Linked DNA regions of Homo sapiens: region 2 is linked to region 1. The links come from fine-mapping of genetic effects on gene expression. A gene starts in region 1. The other region holds a variant in brackets. All regions are shown on one strand. Distances are from middle to middle. Region 1 holds the start of UBFD1 (ubiquitin family domain containing 1). Region 2 overlaps GGA2 (golgi associated, gamma adaptin ear containing, ARF binding protein 2).

The links. PIP is the estimated chance that this variant, and not a neighbour inherited with it, causes the effect.
Region 2: its variant is fine-mapped to the expression of UBFD1 in fibroblasts (GTEx, PIP 0.92).

The regions. Positions count from the first base shown.
Region 1 is chr16:23,550,768-23,566,487 of GRCh38, reverse strand. It overlaps UBFD1 (ubiquitin family domain containing 1), which reads right to left and starts at 8,761. Exons shown (of 7, transcript NM_019116.3): 1 at 8,721-8,761; 2 at 8,209-8,538; 3 at 6,812-7,020; 4 at 4,217-4,282; 5 at 3,758-3,863. The coding sequence starts at 8,745. EARS2 (glutamyl-tRNA synthetase 2, mitochondrial) reads left to right here and starts at 9,138. Exons shown (of 9, transcript NM_001083614.2): 1 at 9,138-9,283; 2 at 14,184-14,339. The coding sequence starts at 9,145. RefSeq lists silencers at 8,339-8,518, 8,619-8,708 and enhancers at 7,876-8,519, 8,779-8,978, 8,520-9,164, 9,169-9,448, 9,809-10,453.
Region 2 is chr16:23,487,910-23,495,909 of GRCh38, reverse strand. It overlaps GGA2 (golgi associated, gamma adaptin ear containing, ARF binding protein 2), which reads left to right. Exons shown (of 17, transcript NM_015044.4): 2 at 132-216; 3 at 1,532-1,607; 4 at 2,452-2,550; 5 at 4,110-4,233; 6 at 7,201-7,304. Among named protein-coding and RNA genes, the nearest start is that of GGA2, 19 kb to the left of the region's middle. The variant C/A (reference allele first, on the strand shown) is at 3,053.

The DNA of each region.
Region 1 (15,720 bases):
TCAGGAGGCTGAAGCACGAGAATCGCTTGAACCCGGGGGGCAGAAGTTGCAGTGAGCCGAGATCATGCCACTTTACTTCAGCCTGGGCCAAAGAGCGAAACTCCATCTCAACAAAAAAAAATATAAAATAAATAAATACCCAAGAAATTCCTTTGTAACCTTATGCAAGCCCAGCATTGACTAAGGTCTTGGGCAGTAGGGAGAGTCAAGAGGCCTACGAACAAAGAGGCAACACGTTCCCCTGTGGCTCTCACAAGGGAAGGGGAGTGCCTGGATTTTAGGGCTAGATTCTATACCACGACCCTGCTCCCTTCCCCGGCCTCCCTCCTCGAGTCCTCCGCACTCTATATTCACACACTTTTATGAAGTTCTCTTAAAACATTTATAACCTTTTGTGATTAACACTTGAGATACCACTGATCACATGGGGTCAGAAGACATTGAGGCGAGTTTAAGGAGGATGGCAGGTAAGAGAAGGGGGCAGCAAGGGATGCCTGGAGTGAGATGAGACTGCCGGGAGTGAGCCAAGTGAAGCGGGACTGGGTGAGGTCAGGGGAGGCGAGGTGCACCTGCACAAGGGGACATGGCCATCCTGGAGCAGCAGACACCTCAGGGACGGGGGCGCAGGGGGAGGGGGGCAGGGAGGCTCAGCAAACAGCTAAACCAAGTGGAAAAAAACTTGCAGCCTTTGCAGAAAGAAAAATCTGGAAAGATAGAGTCTAAAAATAGATAAGTTGGCCAAACAGACTAGGAATTTAGAGACCAGCGTTCTGGTCTAGCTGGGGACTTAAGACATTTTACTTCAGTTCTGTGGGCCTCAGTATCTGAAAAATGGGGGCTGGGGAGAAGGGACCTGAAGATGTTTATTTAGGTTTGGACTTCTAGTGGCTCTACAACAGTCGGCCCTAAAGCAGGACCTGGGCAGCAGCTGTCTTTAAGATGGAAACTTTTAAAACACCTTTCATCCTGAAATGTCTGGAGATTTCACAAAAATATACAACAGATTTCTGGCTTCTCTTGAAAACTCCAAAAATTGGGCAATTCTGGACCCACACTCCTGATCACTACATCAGACCTTCAGCCAGATTCAACTTTCCTACGAGCAGGGTACATGCTCTCCTCCAGCGGCTTCCGGTTTCCTGCCTGGAGCTTGTTCTCATTCTTTTGAGGCTGTTAGAACTGCCTCCTCCTACACAAGCTAGCAGAGTTTAGTCAAGAGTAGCAGCCCTTAAGGGTCACTTACTCAGCAAAGCGCCCCACGAAGAGGCCAACTCGCTGCTGGGATGGTCATTCCATAGCCGCTTCTTCTTGCCAGCAGAAAGACGAAGCCAGTGGCTAGCAGCCAACTCCCAGAACAAGCTGTCCTCTTATGAGTGCTTATGACACTTAGGTAACAGGACTGGGCAAGTGACAAGACTGCCTGCCCCTTGGGCTCCAGAGGTACAGTGCTATGGGTGGGAATGAAAATCTTAACCTTGTTCAACCCTAGAAAACATGAGTAGTCCATGGCCATGCTCCTCAACAAGACTGGTGAGTAAGGAGGCTTTCAAGGGCTCAGAAGCCCCAACATATTGAGCTTCTTCTACAGCTCTCCCTTTAGGCCAAAGCAGGAAGGCGGCTGCTCCTACTAGCAAAAAGAAAACTTCCAATACAGGGTCAGGAAGTTCTTGTTCTGTCAGTTCCTGCAGTTATGATGTGTTCCCTATACAACTTCCTGACACAGAAATATTCCCCAAGGAACCAATGAGCACTTACAGACTTAGTTCCCATCCAGACTTCTCTGCCTGCACCTATCTTCATGGCAGGGTCTTTCCAGGTCAGCCGTAGCAACTGCCTTCAATGAGGCTGCCCACAAGCAAAAGTAGAGGTCCAGCAAGAGGCAGGAAGTCTATGCACTTCAGCAAGTGAATGTGATGAGACAGAACTAAGCAAAATCACCTGCAAAGTTGACAGAGGCTGGGCAGCTTACTACTGATAAAGGGAAGATGGACAGGCTCTACAGAAGAGAATGATCTAGCAGAGGGTTCAAAGGCCCTTGCAAAAACTGGGGGGAACCCTCAGATATTCTGCAAAACTTGCTTTGACCATGCAGTTAGAGTTGAATGTGAAATGAAGAAAATAGCAAGTTATCATAAAATTGATAGAAAACTCAAGCATTTTTGGCATTTCAATTTTTGTTCATTTTAACAATCAGTATAGGGTTGAACACTGATTTTTGTGTTTTAGATGATTAAAAACTCTCTCTTCCCACCACCCCTGCCCCAATTATTCTCCATAAAACTTGGTCCCATTTTAAGTGGAGTCTCACTAAATGGTCTGTCCCTGAAACCAGTGAACGTCAGATGATGGGACCCCCTATACTTCTCTTTAGCATTTACCTCGAACACTGAATACCTACAGTGCTGGTCAGAAACAGGTGATTTAGGCATGTTCGGTTCCCTCCAGGAATCTAACAGGGGGACAGACAAGTCAGAGAGTAATGAGTGCTCTGGGGATATAAACGAAGCGCTCTATGAACAGAAGCGGCAGCAAGTCATTTGGAGGGTGGGGGGAGAATCAAGGAAGGCTTCATTCAGAGAGGACATTTAAGTAGGGCCTTGGAAGATTTTATTAATAACAAGGAATGGGAAAAAGGCATTCCAGGTAAGGGCACAGCATGAGCAAAGACAAGGAGCTGTGCAAAGCACACTGGGAGCTTCACAGAGAGATGCGGCTAAAATACACAGGGGACCACAGGGCAAACGGGCCAGAAGCTGGAACCAAAATTTAAACTAAGGCCCAGTGTTGAGAACACTGAACGCTATGGTTAGGCATTTGAATGTGTCCTTAAACAGCCAAAGGTCCTTGAGCACGGGTACCCAGGATAAAAAGCAGTAGGTAAGATGGACAGGACAGAAGAAAACACAGATGGGGCAGTGAAACAGGGTAACTCGCTTTGAACAGACCAAGTTTAAAGATGCTTGGGAACTTTAACTGGCACAACAGTGTGGCAAAGAAAGGGACAGACAGTTCTGCAGTGTAACTAACAAGACTTTGTAACCATCTGGGGGAAGGGAGAGGGAGGACAGTCAGAGACACTTCCCAGCAAACAGCAAGGCTGATCCAGACACCGTGCACAGGCGGGGGTGGGGCAGGCAGAGGGCAACCAGGCGGGGAGGGAGAGGCAGATTCCTCGGCAGCGGTTAGGAAAACTTCACCTACTATAGGGTCAAACTCTGACCTACAGGGGCCAGGCAGGTGACAAATGAACAAAGCTGGCTACTTCTAAGATAAATGGGACCATGAAGACTGTAGTATGGCCCACTGGAAACCACCACTCGGCTCTAGTGGATCGATGCCATGTGAGAATGCAGGCCCCAAAGGGCCAGATCATTTGAGTTTTCAAGAGAAGCCAAAAAAAAAAAAAAAATCAGATTAGTGAAATCTCCCAATTTTTACAGATTGTGTGTCATCCCACAAAACATTTTTCTGTGGACCAGATTTGGCCCTTGGGCCACGTGTTTGGGACCCCCAAATCTGTGTGCAACTGAAGAGCCACTGTTTGGTGGATCAGCCCTAAGATCAGACTGAAAACAATGAGGGAAAACGGTCCAAACAAAAGGCGAGCATCTAAAAGCAAATTTAAAAGCCAGAAGCAAGCAAAGCACAGTGGAGAGAGAGGTTTCAGAAGGAGGGGTGAAATCGCACTCTAAAATGTGAGTGCTGCTGGGTGCCAGAGGCAGGCAGTGGGCCAGCAAGGAGGCGAGGAAGAACATACCTTTAGTGCCAATCCACAGCTGGTCTTGTTCTAGTTTAAAGGTGAGTCTCACTTTTCCTCCAGATTTATTGTACATGCCGGACAGCGGTACCGTTGGCAGGCGCTCCTGAAGGCACGAGAGAATGGTAAGAGATGGAGGGACAGTCAGAAAAAAAGAGAAGGGGGCCAAGCGCGGTGGCTCACGCCTGTAATCCCAGCACACTGGGAGGCCAAAGCGGTCAGATCACCTGAGGTCAGGAGTTGGAGACTAGCCTGGGCAACATGGTAAAACCCCGTCTCTACTAAAAATACAAAAATTAGCCAGGTGTGGTGGCACACCCCAGCCTGGGTGACAGAGCAAGACTCTGTCTCAAAAAAAAAAAAACAGGGAAAAAAGAGAAGGGACAGGATTGGAGGAACCTCAAGTCAGACGGTGGGGCTGCCTCATTTTCAGAATGCTCACAAAGAAATCCGCCTTACCTGGGCCCCCTTAACAGATGGCATCACATCTTCAGGTTTTCCTTTATCCAACACTTTCCTGTGTTGCTATAAGTCAGAAGAGAGAATGAAATGAAACAGCTGACTACATTTCGTCGTGTTACTATTCCCTTGAAAGAGAGGATGAAGAAAGCCTTAGTGTTTTGGCTCAAAAGCTTTTAATGACGACAGACTATGGATCCTTTGAAACTATAGCACAGTGCTGTCCAGCAGAACTTTCTGGGAGGGCGAATATGTTCGTACCTGTGCTAGCCACTACCTACTGCTGTGACTATTACACACTTGAAATGCAGCTACTATGACTGAGGAACTGAATTCTTAATTTCATTTTAACCAGCCACATGTGGATAGCTACCATATTAGATATCAAAGTTCTACAGCAAACGGGATTTCCAGATTGCCCTCCTCCCCTCAAAAAAAAAAAAAAAAATCACCACTGAAATGATTAAACCATCAAACTAAAGAGGGCGACAAAGGGTGTTGCTCTCCTAGCAGACAAAAAATGGCACCCACCTTTTTCAACTTAAACTTCCAGAGAACACTATAAGATGCTGGTAATCCGTCTAACTGCCTAGGAGGAGCAGTTCTTCAACAAATGGAGACCCAGCCCATCGCCGAAGTTTTCCCCACTGCCCTACCCTTAACTCCAGCTAAACAGGAACCTGGAAGAGCCACCTTTCAGAAAGAAATGCTTATTACTCTATAACCTGACATTAAGAAGCCTCTAAACTCCACCCCTACCACCTGCCCCAAGAACTCTGAGGCAGCTCTTCAAGGATTCTAAGTTCAGGGCCCCTTAAACAGTTCTCCTGCCTGGCCCAAATGCCTGAGTCTTCTTTCTTCTCCATCTGTGGCCTTATAGGCATAGCCACTGCTTGGAAGGCTGGAACTAGGGGACAATGAATGGATAGAAGGTAACAATTTAATCAAATGTAAGCACTAGGCAGCCACAAGCCAGCCCAAATCCTCACTGGCATGGTGGAATCCCTCTGGGAGGAATAAACTCAGCACTGCCAGACTGCTAGCAAAAAGTCACTCCAGACATCACCCCCAGACCCCTTAATAAGCTGGTAAAAAGGCAAGGGACTATATCCCTCTCATTAGGTCATGTGATGCATCATAATTGGCCTCAATGAAACACAGCAGCATGGGCTGGAAGTACAATTCGAGTCACACCTTTCAAGTACCTTTTGAACAAGATTTCCTGTACTGTGGAGAACAGTTCTAAGCCTGTTAAGCTACCATTAGTAACTAAAAACCTGTATTTAGGAGGCATGTTATGCTCCAAGGGTGTGACCATTGCGACCACTCCTATCTGACGTGCTCACATTTCACTATTTCATACATGTGGCAAAGAAAAACAGGAATATGAGAAGAAACTCAATCGGTTTCAAGACACTGAGACCCCATATGTGGGGGTGAAGTCTCCAAATCAACACCTTTTAGATAATTAATATAGGTTTATAACCCCTTATCTGAAACCCTAGAGTTTTGAACTTTCAGGGTTTTGGAATTTTTATAAAGATAATATTGCTTTCAAATACATAACAATCTTCTCTGTGGGGTCTGGGGCAGTACCTTGTCACCAAAGAGGAAAATTCACACTAATTCTGGTCAGGTTTTGCTGTTAAATTTATAAAAACACTTCTCGTTTTTATACTCCTTTGGGGTTTTGGAAGCACACATGGGGGATTATGGATCTGTAACACAAACTGTGTCCTTTTCTTACTGTTGGTCATATATCTTAGTGTCTATGGTCACTAAATGATGTTGATTGAAGTTTATCTACTCTACTTCAGACACAGTTGAGAATACCTGTCTTCCTTGGAACACTAGGAAGAACGATCAGGAGGCTACACAGCAATCAGTATAATTTGCCAGGTAAAAAGATAACAAGTAATGATTCTTACAACCTGTTCCTTCCATAGTAAAATAATCTCACTTTTCCTCGTTACGTGAAAGAATGTTAATGGCTATGATGAGCACAAGACAAGGCAGGATCTCTTGCAGCCAAAAGAACAGAGAACGTAAAAAACCAAGCTCCTATTTCACAGATCAGGACAAAAAAATAAATAAACAAATCCATCAGTGTAGTTGTCTTCCTACTCAGCTTCATTTAGCTTCCTGAAACGGTCAGCTTTAGGGGAACCTCCGAGAGTTGTTGATTTCCATGCCTAGCCAGGCTTGTTGACTTGGGGAAAGCCACAAACCAAAAAGCCAAATGTAAGCACTTGTACAAAATGAGGGCTTACTTCTAGTACTGGTAGTTTTCTCTGGCACTAAATAAGAGAGAGAAACCCACGTCTGATTCCTTTCAACACATGGTCTGAAGCCTCCCTTTACCAAGGTCTTATCCTAAAGTAGGTAGACTTGAGACACACTGACCCGCCAGATGAGACAAAGTTGCAAATCTCAGGTAGTTGTCACCTCCACTCTGCGGCACCCAACTGCTGCCATAAATTTCCATCATGGGCCCTGTCCAAAAAGGAGCTTATTCTAGGGAGAATATAACCAGCCACGGCTCAAGAGGACAAAGCCTCAAATTTCTCAAGACCAAGAAGCACAAGATGGACTCACTTTCTGCCTGCAGAGAGGCTCCTTCTTGTTCTCTTCGGCCTTTGCATCCTGCTGCGCAGCATCTTTGGGTGTGTTTACTGCTAAAACATCATTGATGGTGGAGCCAACCACCATGATCTTGGCCCCACTGGTCACTTTTATTTCTCTCAATGTTTTATCCTCGGGGACGAGTCCCTTATACATGACTTTCTGCATGGCAGGCGGGAGACCTTGGGAAAAGGTAGAAGGTGGACAGTGAAAGGAAGGAAGGACAGAAAAATGTATGGATACTACACAGCTCTTTGGTAACAGACCAAAAAGTGAATACTGCCTCCACCACCTATTAGCTTTGTGAACTTGGGAGATTTACAACCTCTGAACCTCAGTTTCTAGAACTGTAGAAGATTTATTAGAGTAAGTCCTTCTGTACAGACCTGTTTCAAGGATTAAGAGACCAATGCGGGGCATTTAGTACGGTGGCTAGCATTGAATAATTGTTCAGTAAGTACTAGCTCTCATTCTTTCCAAGTTGTTCCTCAGTCATCTAAATCATTCACATATTAAGTGAGAATCCACAGGCATCAGAGCTACAGAAGCCAATAGGGACAAAACTCCTGTTCTTAATGGAGATTACAAGGCTACATGTAGAAAGCTTTAAAAAAAAAAAAAAGTTCAAGGCCAGGAGTGATGGCTTATGCCTGTAATCCCAGCACTTCGGGAGGCCGAGGTGGGTGGATAAAATAAAAAAAACTAGCCCGGCGGGGTAGCGGGCACCTGTAATCCCAGCTACTCGGGAGGCTGAGGCAGGAGAATCGCTTGAACCTGGGAGGCGGAGGCTGCAGTGAGCCAAGATGGTGCCAGTACACTCCAGCCTGGGCAACAGAGCAAGACTCCGTCTCAAAAAAAAAAAAAAATAGGAAAAAGAAAAGAAATCTCAGATGGCAAAGAGCTATGAACAAGGTAAAATTAAGAAACAGAATCGACTGTGAAGAACCAGCATCAAAGTCAATAGCAGCGTTTCCTAAACTTCACTTAGAAGAATTACCTAAGATATTTGCTAAAAATAAATTCCTGGCTACATCCCAGACCCACTGAATCAGAATCTCCTGGGAAAGGGCCCAGAAGCTGTAAAACAAGCGCCTTAGGTGATTTTTTAATTAGAGATGTTAGAGCAACATCAATGAGAAACTGGGGCCTAAACGTCAGACTTCGGCTTTAATCCCAGCTCTGCAACTTACTAGCTCTATAAACTTGAGTCTCTTTCCCCAGCTGAGTAATGGGCATCCAAGTATCCTTCAGAAGACTGCTGTAAGGATGGGGGGACCTGATGCAAGGAAAGCCACCAGGTGCCTAGTAGGGTGCAAGGGCCATCAGGAGGCGGGGTGGGGAAGACTGGCTGTCAGCGCCACAGGAATTACCTGTAATCGAGTGGATCTTCTGTTTCAGCTCGGAGCCTGTGCTGTCCAGGGGGAACTTCACGTCATGCTTGGTCTTATTCCAGATGATCTTCAAGTCCACCAGCTCCCTGCCCGCGCCGCCGCCCGCGTCTTCGCCGTTGCTGACCGAGGCCTGGGCTGCGGGGTCCCCAGGGGGCTGGGCCGGGGCCGGCTGCAGGCTGCCTCGTGCGGCGCCGGAGTCCTCGGCCGCCGCCCCCGCCGCGGCTTCAGCCTCCAGGCAGTTGACGGGCCGCGCGGGAGCCTCAGTAGCCACAGTCTCGGCCTCCGTGTCCATGCCAGGTTCCTCCATGCCTGCAAGGGGGTTAGGGGGTGGGCGCTCGCCGCGGGCTGGGCTTGGGAACGGACGCTGTCCGGGCGCCGCCGGACCTCCGTTCCCGAGCCGCGGTTCTCCCTCCCGGGCCGGGCCGCATCCCCCAGAGGAGCGACCGCAACCTCAGCCCCGGCCCGGCGCCCGCCACCCCCGCCGCACTCACCATCCGGGGCCCCGGCCGCCGCCATGATGATTGTGTACAACACCCACCGCTCCCGCAGAGGCCGCTGGGAAGAGGCGAGCTGGCTGAGATTGGCCCCCGCAGCAGCCCCTAATCTCTCACAGCCCGGCCGGAAACAGGTGGAGGTTTCTATGGAGACCCGCCTCCTCCGCTCCCAGGTCCGGCCCCTGCCACGCTTTCGCTTTCCCAAGCTGAAGGGGGCGGGTCCGGGAAATAGCCCTTTCTCTGGCCTCTGCCCCCTGGTGGCGAGTGCGGCCGCAGCCGTCCAGGGGGGCGTGGGATTTCGCGCTAGGGGGCCTGTGACTTTAAGGGGCAAGGCTGCGCTGGCTGTGGCGGAGGCCGATTGGCTGGAAGCAGTCCCCGGAAGTGACGCAGGGAGAAGCCCACGTGTGCTATTCCATCCCACATGGCGGCGCTCCTGAGGAGACTGCTGCAGCGCGAGAGGCCTTCGGCGGCCTCTGGCCGCCCCGTAGGACGGCGCGAGGCCAACCTGGGCACTGATGCCGGGGTTGCGGTGCGAGTGCGGTTCGCTCCCAGCCCCACAGGTAACCCTGGCGGACGTGACGCTACAGGCCGAGGCCCCCTGTCCCGTCTCCGCCCCACGAATGTTCCCGAATGAATCCTTTCCGGTGGTGTCAGAGTGGGCGGGCGGAGGAGGGTTAAGGCAGCGCGAGCCCATTTTACAGAGGCGGAAACTGAGGTGCAGGAGCGGAAATAATTCAAATTGCCAGGAGTTTCTTGTGTTTTTTGTGCCATCCCATCTCTTTCGATCTTTTTTTCATGCATTCCATACATGTGCATTGATGACAACCTGTGTAACAGGTGTTGTAGACGCTGGGATACAGTGATCATTGAGAAAGGTAGGGGCCTTGCTCTGTGGAAGTCTGCATTCTAGTGGCTGCCGCAGACACTTATAAAAAATAAGTGTAATTTTAGAGTCACATGTGCCATGCGGGAAGTGAAACAGGATAGGAGACTGGGGATTAAGAAGGACGCTCCAGAAGGCTTTACTGAGCAGGTAACATTTGAGCTGAGATCCAAATGACAAGAAGGAGCACGCTATGTGAAGCCTATAGAAGGAACCTTCTGGAGGCCAGGCGCGGTGGCTCACGCTTGTAATCCCAGCACTTTGGGAGGCAGAGGTGGGTGCATCACTTGAGGTCAAGTGGATCACTTGAGAGCCGTCTGACCAACATGGTGAAGCCCTGTCTCTACTAAAAATACAAAATTATCTGGGCATGGTGGCGCATGCCTGTAATCCCAGCTACTTGGGAGGCTGAGGCAGGAGAATCGCTTGAACGCAGGAGGTGGAGATTGCGGTGAGCCAAGATCGCGCCATTGCACTCCAGCCTGGGCAACAAGAGCGAAACTGTGTCTCAAAAACAAAAAAGAAGGAACCTTCTGGGTAGAGGAAATCGCAGGTACCAAGGCACTGTGCTAGTGCTGTTGGGAGCTTAGCAAGCTAGAGGGTGACAGAGGCCCATTGTATAGCCTGTTGGAGATCTCGTCAGGGCCTTTTGGTTCCCACCAGTAAGGCTACCTTCTACGTTCTCTACACGGAGTATGCCTCTCATCCCAAATCCCAGGATGAACATACAAAGATCTTTGTAGTAAAATCCCAGCTATACATGACAGGATCTTTCTGGCAGGCAGTATAGCCTAGAGCAGTGCCTTTCAAACCATCTGTTGTGGAAGTGCTGGTTTTAAATTTCCAATCAATTGTGTATCAATATTTGCACAAAATTAATATAATGACCAGAAAAATAAAATTTTGAAAACATCCAAAATACAAACCAATCTCATTTTATTTGGGTTAGCAGAGGTAAAATCATTCTGCCAGATTGCTATGTAAGTTTCGCCTGGCCAATATGGCAAAACCTTGTCTCTACTAAAATACAAAAATTAGCCGGGCATGTGGCCCAGGCCTGTAATCCCAGCTACTCAGGAGGCTGAAAATCGTTTGAACCCAGGAGAAAGAGGTTGCAGTGAGCCGAGATCGTGCCACCGCACTGCAGCCCGGGTGACAGAGTGAGACTCCATCTCAAAACAACAACAAAAGTTTCTAAACCTTTACTCTCAGTTTCTGTACTTGATTGTGAACTGACAACTGTTTTCAGACCAGCACTGGATTGCACACTTTGCTTTGAAGAGCACTTATGTAGAATGCCAAAGCCTGGGATTGCCTGGGTCCAAATTTCTGTCGTGGCCACTTATTAGATGTGTAACTTACTAGATGTGCAAATTATTATTGTTATTTTGAGACAGGGTTTGGCTCTGTCTGTCGTCCAGGCTGGAGTGCAGTGGTGCAATCTCGGCTCACTGCAACCTCAGCCTCCGGGGCTCAAGTGATCCTCCCACCTCAACCTCCCGAGTAGCTGGGACTACAAGTGTGTGACCACTACGCCCAGCTAATTTTTGTATTTTCTTGTAGAGATGGGGTTTTGCCATGTTGCCTGGGCGGATCTTGAACTCCTGAGCTCAAGTGATCCACCTGCCTTGGCCTCCGAAAGTGCTGGGATTATAGGTGTGAGCCATCACACCTGGCCTAGATGTGCAAATTATTTAATGAATCTGAGCCTCAGTTTCACCATTTGTCAAAACGGGGCTAATAATAATATCTGTCTTATGGGGTTAAGCTCATGCAGCCGAACCACTTAGTAAGGTCTAGTACACCCAGAAAGCACTTAATACACAGCCTCTATTATGATGATTGTACTTCTCATTTCCTTGCTCATTTGCGGGGAAAGCCCATGTGGGAAAGGCTTTTGACTATAAACAGATAAAAGAATTATCAGGCACAGATCATTACAGTAGCTGAAATTAATTGAGGGTTTACTTTGGTCAGCATTTAGACCTCAGAGCAACCCTATAATAAAGAAGGTTCTTATTTTTTTGCTCTTAATCCCTCTGACAGATGAGGAAATAGAAGCTCATAAAAGTTAAGTAGAGTTCCTTCTCAAGGGGTAGCAACTAATAAATGGTGGATGCAGAATTTGAATCCAGGTGTACTTGATGTAAGAGGCTTTGTTTTCAGCAGCTGGGTTCCTCTTTTGTCTTGGGGACTCGTGGGACTCAGTGCCACTGAATACCACTGGTTTTCTGGTGTCCTTGCAGTAACTATCCGAAGGTTACACACATCAGTGTTGAAGCAGGGTCGGCCTGGCCCCAGAAGAGCTTTTTCTCTCCTCTGCTGCCTCTTGTACTTGTAAATGTAGATGAGCTCATTGTGGAGACTTAGGGCTGTGGGCTGGTCCGAAGAAGGTACGGTAAGAGGTAATGACAACTCTGGAAAAGCTGTTAACTTTCAGTTTTCAGACAGGAATGATGAAAAAGGCAAATCTTAGGAGTTTAAACTGATGAAGAGAAATACAGTGGAATCAAACACTACTTTTGGTTAGTGTTTAAAGCCAGCAATTAGGGTGAAAATCTTGGCAAGGCATGGTGGCTCATGCCAGTAATCCCAGCACTTTGGGAGGCTGAAGTGTAAGGATTGCTTGAGCCCAGGAGTTTGAGACCAGCCTGGGCAACATAGTGAGACCTTGCCTCTGCAAAAAAAAAACCAAAAAACAAATATTAGCCGGGCATGGTGGTGTACACTTGTAGTTCCAGCTACTTGGGAGGCTGACGTGGGAGGATTGATTGAGCCTGGGTGGTTGAGGCTGCAGTGAGCCGTGACTGTACCACTGGACTTCAGCCTGGGCAAGAGTGAGACCCCATCTCAAATTTCAAAAATGAATTTTGTTTCTTTAAAAAAGTAAAAATCTCAAGTAGATGAAATTTAAAATGTACGACGTGGACAGTCATGCACACTGCATAGACTGCATATGCAAAATGTGATTTTTTTTTTTTTTTTGGAGATGGAGTCTCGCCCTGTCGCCCAGGCTGGAGTGCAATGGTGCGATCTCGGCTCACTGCAACCTCTGTCTCCTGGGTTCAAGCAGTTCTCCTGCCTCAACCTCCCAAGTAGCTGGGATTACAGGCGCCCACCACCATGCCCAGCTAATTTTTTTTGTGGTATTTTTAGTAGAGACGGGGTTTCAACATGTTGGCCAGGCTGGCCTCAAACTCCTGACTTTGTGATCCACCCGCCTCGGCCTCCCAAAGTGCTGGGATTAAAGGTGTGAGCCACCATGCCCCACCGATTTTTTTTTTCTTTGTAGAGACAGGATCTCACAATGTTGCCCAGGCTGGTCTCAAATTTAGAGACCCAGGTGATCCTCGTGCCTCTGCCTCCAAAAGTGCTGGGATTAGAGGTGTGAGCTACTGCACCTGGCCCACAATATGATTGTACAGTATTTTAAATTTCTAGTTTGTTTGTAATTAATTTTTTTCCCAGCGCACATCATTGAATTTCTGTAAGTTAAATGTACATGATATGGCCTCAATGAATAACTCTCTGCTTCTCTTTCAGGCGAAACTTGGCCTTGAGACAAATATCAAAATAGAGTGGTGGATGCAGTTGGGGAAAATTGGAGCCTTTTAATAAAATGACATGCTCCAAATCCTGGGTGGTTTCCATTTTCAGGATGAGGGATTAAATGTGTCTGGAGACAGGGCACAGGGGTAACTAGTTCTTAGTCTTTGAAAAAAAATTTTTTAATTTTTAATTTTTTTTGTTTGAGACAGAGTCTCACTCTACTGCTGCCCAGGCTGGAGTGCAGAGGCGTGATCATGGCTCGCTGCAGCCTCAGCGTCCCCAGGCTCAGGTGATCCTCCCACCTCAGTAACTGAAACCACAGGCATGTACCACCATGCCCAGCTAAATTTTTATATTTTTTGCTAAGACAAGGTCTCACCATGTTGCCCAGGCAGATCTCAAACTCAGGCCAAGCACAATGGCTCACGCTTGTAATCCCAGCACTTTGGGAAGCCAAGGCAGATGGATCACTTGAGGTCAGGAGTTCGAGATCAGCCTGACCACCATGGCAAAATCCTATCTTTACTAAAAATACAAAAATTGGCCAGGTGTGATGGCTCTTGCCTGTGATCCCAGCACTTGGGAGGCCGAGGCTGGGGGGATCACTTGAGGCCAGGAGTTCAAGACCAGCCTTGCCAACATGGCGAATGCCTGTCTCTACCAAAAATACAAACATGTAGCTGGACGTGGTGGCACACACCTGTAATCCCAGCTACTCGGGAGGCTGGGCATGAGAATTGCTTAAACACAAGAGGCAGAGGTTGCAGTGAGCCAAGACTGTGCCACTGCACTCCAGCTTGGGTGACAGAGTGAGACTCTTGTCTTAAAAAACCTACAGGAACCTCCTGGGCTCAAGTGATCCCCCCGGCCTTGGCCTCCCAAAGTGGTAGGATTACAGGCGTGAGCCAATGTGTCCTGCTGGTCTTTTAAATTTATTGCAACATTCTGTCACAGTAGTGCTTACTTGCCCCTTGCTGAGGCCTATTAGCTTATCTTCCCTGTCTTATCTGAGCTGTTCTCTTCTCCAGGCTTCTTGCACCTGGGTGGCCTCCGCACTGCCTTGTACAACTACATCTTTGCTAAGAAGTACCAGGGGAGCTTCATCCTGAGGCTAGAGGACACAGATCAGACTCGCGTTGTGCCTGGGGCAGCGGAGAATATTGAGGACATGCTGGAGTGGGCAGGTAAGCCTGGCAGAGAAAGGATCTTTCTGCAGGGAAGGAACAGGAAGCAGGAAAAGGAGCCTGTGGGTCTTCTCATGGAGTTCTGAGTGGAAAATGGGGAGTTCCTGGAGAAGTGGCTACATTTGTACTGCCCTGCCCGGGGTGGCAGATGACACCTGAAAAAATGCCGAAGCTCTCTGAAACACAGCTCCAAGACTGGTTTCTTTATTTTTATTTATTTATTGTTTTTGAGACAGAGTCTTGCTCTGTTGCCCAGGCTGGAGTGCAGTGGTGCGATCTCGGCTCACTGCAAGCTCCGCCTTCCGGGTTCACGCCATTCTTCTGCCTCAGCCTCCAAGTAGCTGGAACTACAGGCGCCCGCCACCACGCCCGGCTAAGTTTTTTTGTATTTTTAGTAGAGACGGGGTTTCACTGTGTTAGCAAGGATGATCTTGACCTCCTGACCTCGTGATCCACCTGCCTCGACCTCCCAAAGTGCTGGGATTATAGGCATGAGCCACCGCGCCCAACTTGGTTTCTTTATTTTTTAATTTTTTAGAGTCAGGGTCTCATTTTGTTACCCAGGCTAGAGTTCCATGGCACAATCATAACTTACTGTAGCCTCGACCTGGGCTCAAGTGATCCTCCACCTTAGCCTCCCAAGTAGTTGGGACTACAGGCACGCACCACCACGCCTGGCTAATTTTTAATTTTTTTGTAGAGATGAGATCTCACTGTGTTGCCCAAGCTATTCTCAAACTCCTGGGCTCAAGCAATCCTCCTGCTACAGCCTCCCAAAGAGCTGGGATTACAGGTGTGAGCCACTGCCAAGGCTGTTTTGAGATTCCTGTTTTCACCTCAGAATCTCAAGTTCATTCCCTACAGGGGCCAGGCAGGAAACACAGGGCCAAGTGGGAACTGGAGGAGCTGGGCCAGTGCTGAGCTGTGAAAACCACACCTCATCCAGAGTTGGGAGTGCCTCTGAGCTCCAGCTCCTTGTGCCCATGCGGGAATGCTGGCCCAGCTTGTCCAATCCTCTGAGTTGCAAGAGGAGCCAGAAATCCAGTTTTTCTGGATGAATACTTAACCATTATTAAATCTGGGCTCAGATTTTTTTTAACCATGTTGTATAAGCCACACAAAACACGTACAGCTTCTGAAGTTGATCTTGTGGGAAGTTTTATCCTGAGGACAGCTAAGGTCAGGGAGAACAAAGAGGAGTGTGTTTCCTTTTCATGGGTCGACAGTTGTCTACCTGTATGGACGGGTGTGACTAGGAAAGGGGAGATTCCCAAGGAAAAATACCAAGACTCTGCTAGTCTAGAGATTGAAAAAAAAAGAAAGAAAAACCCCAAGACTATTTTGAGATGTGTGTTCTAATCTCAGGTAAATTACTCACTAA
Region 2 (8,000 bases), 67 kb after region 1:
CTTCCAGCTGTCTGCCCACTGGTCTGATCCTGTAGATCTGTGATAAGACAGCTCTTGGCCACCATGTGTATGGGGAGGGGTGTAAATTTCTTCCTATTATGTACTCTCTAACTTTATTATTTATTTGACAGACAAAGCCACAGACCCAAGCATGTCGGAACAGGATTGGTCAGCTATCCAGAATTTCTGTGAGCAGGTGAACACTGACCCCAATGGGTAAGGTAACTTCTCACACACATAGTTGACTCTGGGGGCACCCCACACTGAGTGTAGGCCTTTGTCTCTCAAGACTGTTTTAGGGTTAAGCTCTCTAGGCAAGGATCGGTGGCTCATGCCTATAATCCCAACAGTTTGGGAGACCAAGGCAGGAGGATTGCTTGAGCCCAGGAGTTTGAGACCTGCCTGGGTGACAGAGTGAGAGACTCTGTCTCAAAAAAATAGAAATGCAGTCAGGCTGGCATTCATTCTCTCATTTTCCCCTATAATCCTGAGAACATTATTTTTCTAAAATTAGCAAATTCATGTGGGGGAAAAAAAACACAGGATAGCTCACTTGCAACTGGCAGTTATTAATTTTAAATACTGTTATAAAACACTAATGCTGAGGAGAACTCTGAATGTTACTGATAGACTATAGACACGTTACCTAATTAAAAGAGATCTGTGTATTCTCCACCATTTAAATGTAATTTTAAGAAAAAGGAAAAGGGGAAGGTTTTATTGAATTCTGTTTCCACAGCATCTGGATAGGACCTGAAGAATCAGAATCAAGTGAGTCATCCAGATGTTTTGTTTTTGTTTTGTTTTCTTTTCTTTTCTTTTTTTTTTTTTCCTGAGACAGAGTGTCTCAAGACTGGAGTGCAAGGGCACGATCTCAGCTCACTGCAACCTCCACCTCCCGGGTTCAAGTGGTTCTCCTGCCTCAGCCTCCCAAGTAGCTGGGATTACAGGCGCGTGCCTCCATGCCTGGCTAATTTTTTGTATTTTTTTAGTAGAGATGGGGCTTCACCATGTTGGCCAGGCTGGTCTCGAACTCCTGACCTCAGGTGATCCACCTGCCCTGACCTCCCAAAGTGCTGGGATTACAGGCGTGAGCCACTGTGCCTGGCCCATCCAGATGTTTAATCTGTGTGGTGTCGCATATTTGGCCAGTTTGAACCCAGAGTTTGATCGCACTTTCTGCTCTAGCATTTCCTAGGTATTTATCACAGCCATACAGGGCCTGTGCTGCTGTGGCTACTCATGGGACTGGGCTGGGACTGGCAGCTTGGAGTTTGGGGGCTGGGGGTTGGCTGAGGGGAGGGCAGTGTGCCCTGGGCAGGAGGAGGACCTTGGGTGCTGTAGGTGCAACCAGGGTGGGTGCGAGGTGGCCCTCTCCAGGGCCCCCGCGTGGCCTGTTTGTCAGGCACGCTCCACCTCTGCTTTTGGACACCAGCCCCTGGAAGAAAAGTGATTTTACTGAGCATGCTCAGCCACTCGGGTTAGTTTCTTTTTGCCCGCCCAGAGTCTAGGTCTTTTTGTTTCCCTGTAGCCCCACACATGCGCCCTGGCTACTGGCCCACAAGATCCAGTCTCCGCAAGAGAAGGAAGCTCTTTATGCCTTAACGGTGAGTTTGGCTTGCCTTGTAGCCTAACCTTTCCTGTCCTTGTGCTATAGAGAGCCGAGAGGCGCTTTGCTTCCACACAGATCCTTTTCACTGGAGAAGGGAGGTCCCCTGAGAGGTTTACCTTCACAGCAGGTTGGAGGAGGGAGATCTGGGCCAGGGTCCCCACCCTTCTTCCTCCTGTTTCTCGTCTGTTTCTTCAGGGCAGCATTGAGTCTACTGTGGGAGAAGGAAAGGAAGGTTTTATTTCATTTGCCCTTCTTAGACCAGGGCTGGCAAGTTCATGTGCCTTTTCTAGAGAGGGCAGTTCTAGCACAGGGCCCACTAGCTGTTGGCAGGTATGAGTATGGGCTCAGGGTTGCTAGTTTAGGTCTTTGTATATGTTTGAGTGTTTAGATGTTGGTGACTAATTTGCAGTGTTGAAAGCCACAGTATGGACGAGAGGAGGGGTCTGCAGGCTCAGCTTGCCTCTTGAGTGCCAGTGGGTGACATCCGGCTGGTCTTGGGCACTGGATACCAGATCTCTGCCTCTGGGGAGGGGTTGGTTCTTTAGCCACTTTCTCCTCTCAAAGGGTCTCCTTAAAAGGTGGGGTGACCTCAGGGTTTGACATACCTCACTAAGCTATTTCCTGGGCATAAACCTCAGGCAGTTATAGCAAGATTGAACAGGGGACATTTTTTTCTTGATCTGAAAACGTCCTCTTCATCAAAACTTCAGTGTCCTCATAGGCTTGAGGCAGGGTTAGCCTTGGTTCCAGCGCAGTCTCCAGCAAGTGATTACCAGCCTGGAGGGGAGCCTGGGACCACTGGCTTTCCACCTTCTCCTGGGGGTCCTGTGTCTGTGCAGGTGCTGGAGATGTGCATGAACCACTGTGGGGAGAAGTTCCACAGCGAGGTGGCCAAATTTCGTTTCCTGAACGAACTGATCAAAGTGTTGTCCCCAAAGGTGAGTACCTGGGCTTGGCTCTGCTGACTGTGTCGCACCTACGCCCACTGTCAAACTCCTGGCTCCCTCCTCAGGCCAGAGGCAGGCCCACGCATGGACAAAACCTGCTCCTGCCTGTGAAAGAAGCGCTCTCCTCTCCAAGCTCTAGGAAGAGGCTCTGCTCATTAGCTGACCCCTGCCCCTCACTGTTAGCATTTTCACATTTCCCTTTTAAGAAGGCCTGGGGAACGTGTGGCCTAGAGGAGATGAGGAACTCCAGCTTGGAGGCACAGGTTCCTGATAGAGACAGTGAGAGATCCCAGGGGTGGCGTGAAAGTTTCCTATCACCTCCTGCCTTGTCCTCTGTACCTGTCCTCCTGGCACCTGTCTTAGCTCAGCCAGTCTCAGGTAACCAACATTGAGCCCTGCCTTGTTGTGTTCCCACAACAGTGCCGATGCTGGCCATGGGTCCTACAGTTCATTTCAGTTCTGACACTCCCCTGAGTTGCATGCTACCCGGACC[C/A]CACGCAGTGAGGGCTCAGTGCTGCTTAGGCTTCCTGTGTTTCAGCTGCCAGCCGTGAGTCTCATGTGTCCTCAAGCTGCTGCACTTCTGCATCCCCAGCTGCAGATTCAGGGGTTCCTATGACCCCCACCGCCCCATATTCCATAATTCCCTAGAATGATTCACGTACACAGGAAAGCACTATACTTTCTATCCCTGTTTTATTGTAAAGGATACAAATGGAAGCGATACATAGGCAAGGTCTTGGTGGGGCAAGAGGGGACAGAGCTGCTGTGCCCTCCCCTGGACTCTGAGCTTGCCATCCTCCCAACGTAGGTTCAACTGAGAGGCTCTCTGAGCTTCCTTGTTTCAGTGTTTTCATCTGAGGTTTTTTTGTTTTGTTTTGTTTTTTTACACATCATTGCTGGCTTGAACTAGCACTAGGTTTTATTACCTAGGCATGATCGGTCAAATCATTGGCCACATAGTTGAACTCAATCTCTAGTTCACACCCCCCTGCCCGCCCCACCACCTCCACAGGTGGGGGGATGTGGGGGCACCGGTCAGGGGATGGGGCTGAAAGTTTCAGCCCTCTGATCACAAGGTTGATCTCTTTGGAGTGGCCAGCCCTTGAAGCTCTCTAGGCACTCACTGTAAGTCATTAGTGAAAACTCAGGTGCACCCTGCGAGTGTGTCTCTTGAATAACAAGACACTCTTGTGACTCAGGAAATTCCAAGGATTTTTGAAGTTCTGTGCCAGGAACGGAAACAAAGACCAAATTTTATTATTATATTCTTGTCCAAGGCAAAAAATGACTGTCCCCAGTGGTGTAGAACAGGCTCTGACCCAGGCTCTTGCATGGTGGGGTTTAGTGTGAGTATTGCCGAGATGAATTCCTTGAATCCCAGGAAGGGCTCCGGGGCTGGGCGCCAGATGGTGTGGCCTCTAGTCTCTCCTCACACTCATACCGCGCCTGGGAGCTTGTGTCTCTGGGCCTCAGCAGCTACCTCTTTAGTTAAAGTGTCGGTCTCCCAAGTCCCTTCCAGCTCTAGAATTCTCTTTCCTTTTTACTTTCAGTACCTGGGGTCCTGGGCCACAGGAAAAGTTAAAGGAAGAGTCATTGAAATACTCTTCAGTTGGACAGTCTGGTTTCCGGAAGACATCAAGATTCGAGACGCTTATCAGATGCTGAAGAAACAAGGTCTGACTTGCCTTACTGTGTCTTATTTCCTCTTGACTAGGCCTGTATCTTCTTGCTTTTTCATCTGCCTTATAATTTTTTGTTGAAAGCTGTACTTCTTATGTAGGACCATAGACACTGAGGTAGAGTTTTTTTTTTTTTTTTTTACGCAATAAATCTTTTATCTACTTACCTTTAAAAGCCATAGTGCAAACCTGGAAAGATGATGTAGGGTTTGCTTTTTTCCCTGTTGCCTGGAAATCATAGGAAACCACAGCATGAAAAAGGTCAAAATACAAGCTACCTATGTCACTAAAGCACTTATTTATCTTTTAAAAGACTTGTTTGCCTAAAAACTAACCTTTTGGTTTTTTTTTTTTTTTTTTTTTTTGAGACAAGGTGTTGCCCTGTTACCTAGGCTGGAGCACAGTGGTGCAGTCATGGCTCACTGTAGCCTCGACCTTCTGGACTCCAGCCATTTTCCTGCCTCAGTCTCCCAAGCAGCTGGGACTACAGGCGTGTGCCACCATACCCAACTAATTTTTTCATTTATTATTATTCTCCCACCCACACCCCAACACACACACACAAACACACACACTCTCTTCCTCTCTCTCTGTCTCTGTCTCACTTGCTGTCTCACTTACACCAAATATTTGTATTTTTTGTAGAGACAGGGTCTTGCAATGTTACCCACGCTGGTCTCAAACTACTGGGCTCAAATGATCCTCCCACAGCCTCCCAGGCGTGAGCCACCATGCCCATCTTTAACCTCTTTTCCTGAAATAGTGGAACCTTACTATGAAGTACAGATAAATGCTACCTATGAGCTAGAGTTTGAAAAATACTATTGTGATAAAAGTAACAACGTGCAGACATAAAATATTTTATAGTTACAAAAGATCTTTCAGTAATCATTTAGTGGATTTATTTTTATTTACTTCTTTTTTTTTTTTTTCTTTTGAGACAGAGTCTCACTCTGTTGCCCAGGCTGGAGTGCAGTGGGGCGATCTCTGTTCACTGCAACCTCCGCCTCCTGGGTTCAAGTAATTCTTGTGCCTCAGCTTCTCGAGTAGCTGGGATTACAGGCACCTGCCACCATGCCTGGCTAATTTTTGTATTTTTAGTAGAGATGGGGTTTCACCACATTGCTCAGGCTGGTCTCAAACTCCCAACCTCAAATGATCCGCCTGCCTCAGCCTCCCAAAGTGCTGGAATTACAGGCGTGAGCCACCGCTCCCGGCTGTGGATTTATTTTTAATTGACACATACTTATACACATTTATTGGAGTACAATGTGATATTTTGGTACATGCATACAATGTGTAGTGATCAAATCAGGGTAATTGGCATATCCATCAGTGAGGTAAGGAGTTTTTAATCCCTGGAATTGGGTAGAGCTTTCCTTTTGGTAGACAGGATTTGAGCTGGGTGTGAGATTTGTTGTTGCTGTAGTTACTATATCAGACTTCAGATTCCTCTAGTGTTAGCTGATGTTTAGGTTGGGGGCTAGCTAGTTTGTTAGTTTTCTTCAGTATCTGTTCTCTCAGCTGTAGGTCTTCACTTTCCTCTGCACCTCAGAGAGAGCCTTTCTCCTTGTTCTTGCCACTCGTAGCAGTAGACAGCCATCCCTTGTCAGAGGGATAGGGTGGCGGGCAGGGCCAGTCTCTGTTCTGATTCAGCCTGGTTCTTAGGCAGGCACTGCATCCTGGGTCTTGGTAGGATCTGTTTGTGATCCTGCCTCACCCCAGTGTAGATCTGGGCCCAGGACATAATTCCTGCTCCTCCTCCAAGGGTACTAGGGTTTGTTTTTGTTTTTTCTCCCCTGTTTTTTCTCTAGCTGCAGTGGGTTCCACCGGTGCTCTAAGGCTGCAGGGTTTGTTACTCTTCTCCCCCTAATCCCGCCTTCAGGCCTTCCCGCTGTTTTCGTGAGCCTCTGGAGAAGAGCTTATTTTCTTTTTGTTGCAGCCTCCAGAAATTCTGTATTCTCTTGGTAGCTCACACTGGCCTGTAGACAATTTTTAAATAATTCTAGCTTAGTTGTTACTATTGGTATTGCCTTTTGTCAATCCTTGGAGGTTGTTTTTTTCCTTAGATTTCAGGTTACTTGGTTGTTGCCCTGTGATCTGGGCTCTCTGATGTATTCAGGGAAGCTGTAGGCTGGGCATGGTGGCTCACGCCTGTGATCCCAGCACTTTGGGAGTTTGAGGTGAGGAATCACTTGAGGCCAGGAGTTTGAGACCAGCCTGGGCAACATAGCGAGACCCCCATCTCTACAAAAAATTTTTTAAAAAAATTACCTGGGTGTGGTGGTGCCCACCTGTAGTCCCAGCTACTTGGGAGGCCAAGGTGAGAGGACTGCTTGACCTTAGGAGTTTGAGGCTGCAGCGAGCCATGATCACACCACTGCATTCTAGCCTGGGAGACAGAGCAAGAATCTGTCTCAAAAACAACAAAAATATTGTGAATTTGCACACTTTCCAGTGTTTTGTTGTTGTCACGATGGGGGTGATAGTTCCCACCTTTGTGTGTCCTGTTTGGAAGATGGGAATCTGAATTCCTTTTTATGTTGGGCTCTTAAAAGAAGGAACTCAGGTTCAGGATGGACTGTTGTTCCCTGTCACATACACTCAGCATTTTCAGGAGCTTCATCAGGGACCCTCCAGAAACTTTTGATCCCTGGGAGGTTATGTAGCTGGATAAACTGATCCATGCTTTTACAGCATAAGGCCCACAGACTGCAGGCCTTCAGGACTGGCTCTTCTCTGACATAGTTGGCTCTGCTGTCCCGGCCACCATGGTCCCTTGGATTCTCCTAAGAGATGATGCAAAACTTCGTTCATACACTGGGTGTTGTCTTTGAAGGCTGTTGACAGTGCTTTGCTAGCATGGTATTAGGAACCAGGGGTTTCCAGACTTTATACTGGATTCTGACTGAAGTTTCTGGGTACCATATCGGTGTCTTAACTTTGTAAATTGCATTTTTAGGAATTATAAAACAAGACCCTAAACTACCAGTGGATAAAATCTTACCCCCACCATCTCCCTGGCCCAAGAGCTCCATCTTTGATGCTGATGAAGAAAAGTCCAAGGTAAGGAAACAGACCTACATGGTGTCTGATCAGACCTTTTCTCTTAGGCACTGTAAATGCCCTTTGATGCTTGAATCGGAGTATGGAGGGGGGCAGGTTACATGGGTTCTCCTCTCCAGACAGGCCCTTAGGAGTGAGGTAGCAGAAGGTTTGGGTGCGTTCTTCATGGATAAGTCAACTAATAAGGGCCAGTCTGTTTTGATTCAGCCTGGTTCTTAGGCAGACACTGCATCCTGGGTCTTGGTAGGATCTGTTTGTGATCCTGCCTTACCCCAGTGTAGATCTGGGCCCAGGACATAATTCCTGCTCCTCCTTCAAGGGTACTTTGTGCCCTCTCCCTTTTGTGCACAGCCTTCCTGGGGGAAAGAAGGTGCAGAAGGATAGCCCGTGGGGAGTGTGGGTGATGGATGGGTCATGTCCTGTGTGGGTGTGGTGTTGGGGTGGGGACAGTGGAAGAACTTGCTGCTGTGTGTTGCTTCAGCTCTTTCTCAGTGCCAGTGAGCCCGGCCCTATCCATTTTCCATCCACCATGAACTCCCCAAACCGTTATTCCTTGGACATCAGTATCTAGAGGGACAAGAAGAAGAAGGTGGCCAAGACCCAGGGATAACTGTGGTGCCTGTGAGTGGGGAGCCCTTTGGCCTAGTGCTGGCGGTGCTTTTGGTCATGACTGTTCTTGGTCAGTCACAAGGTCTA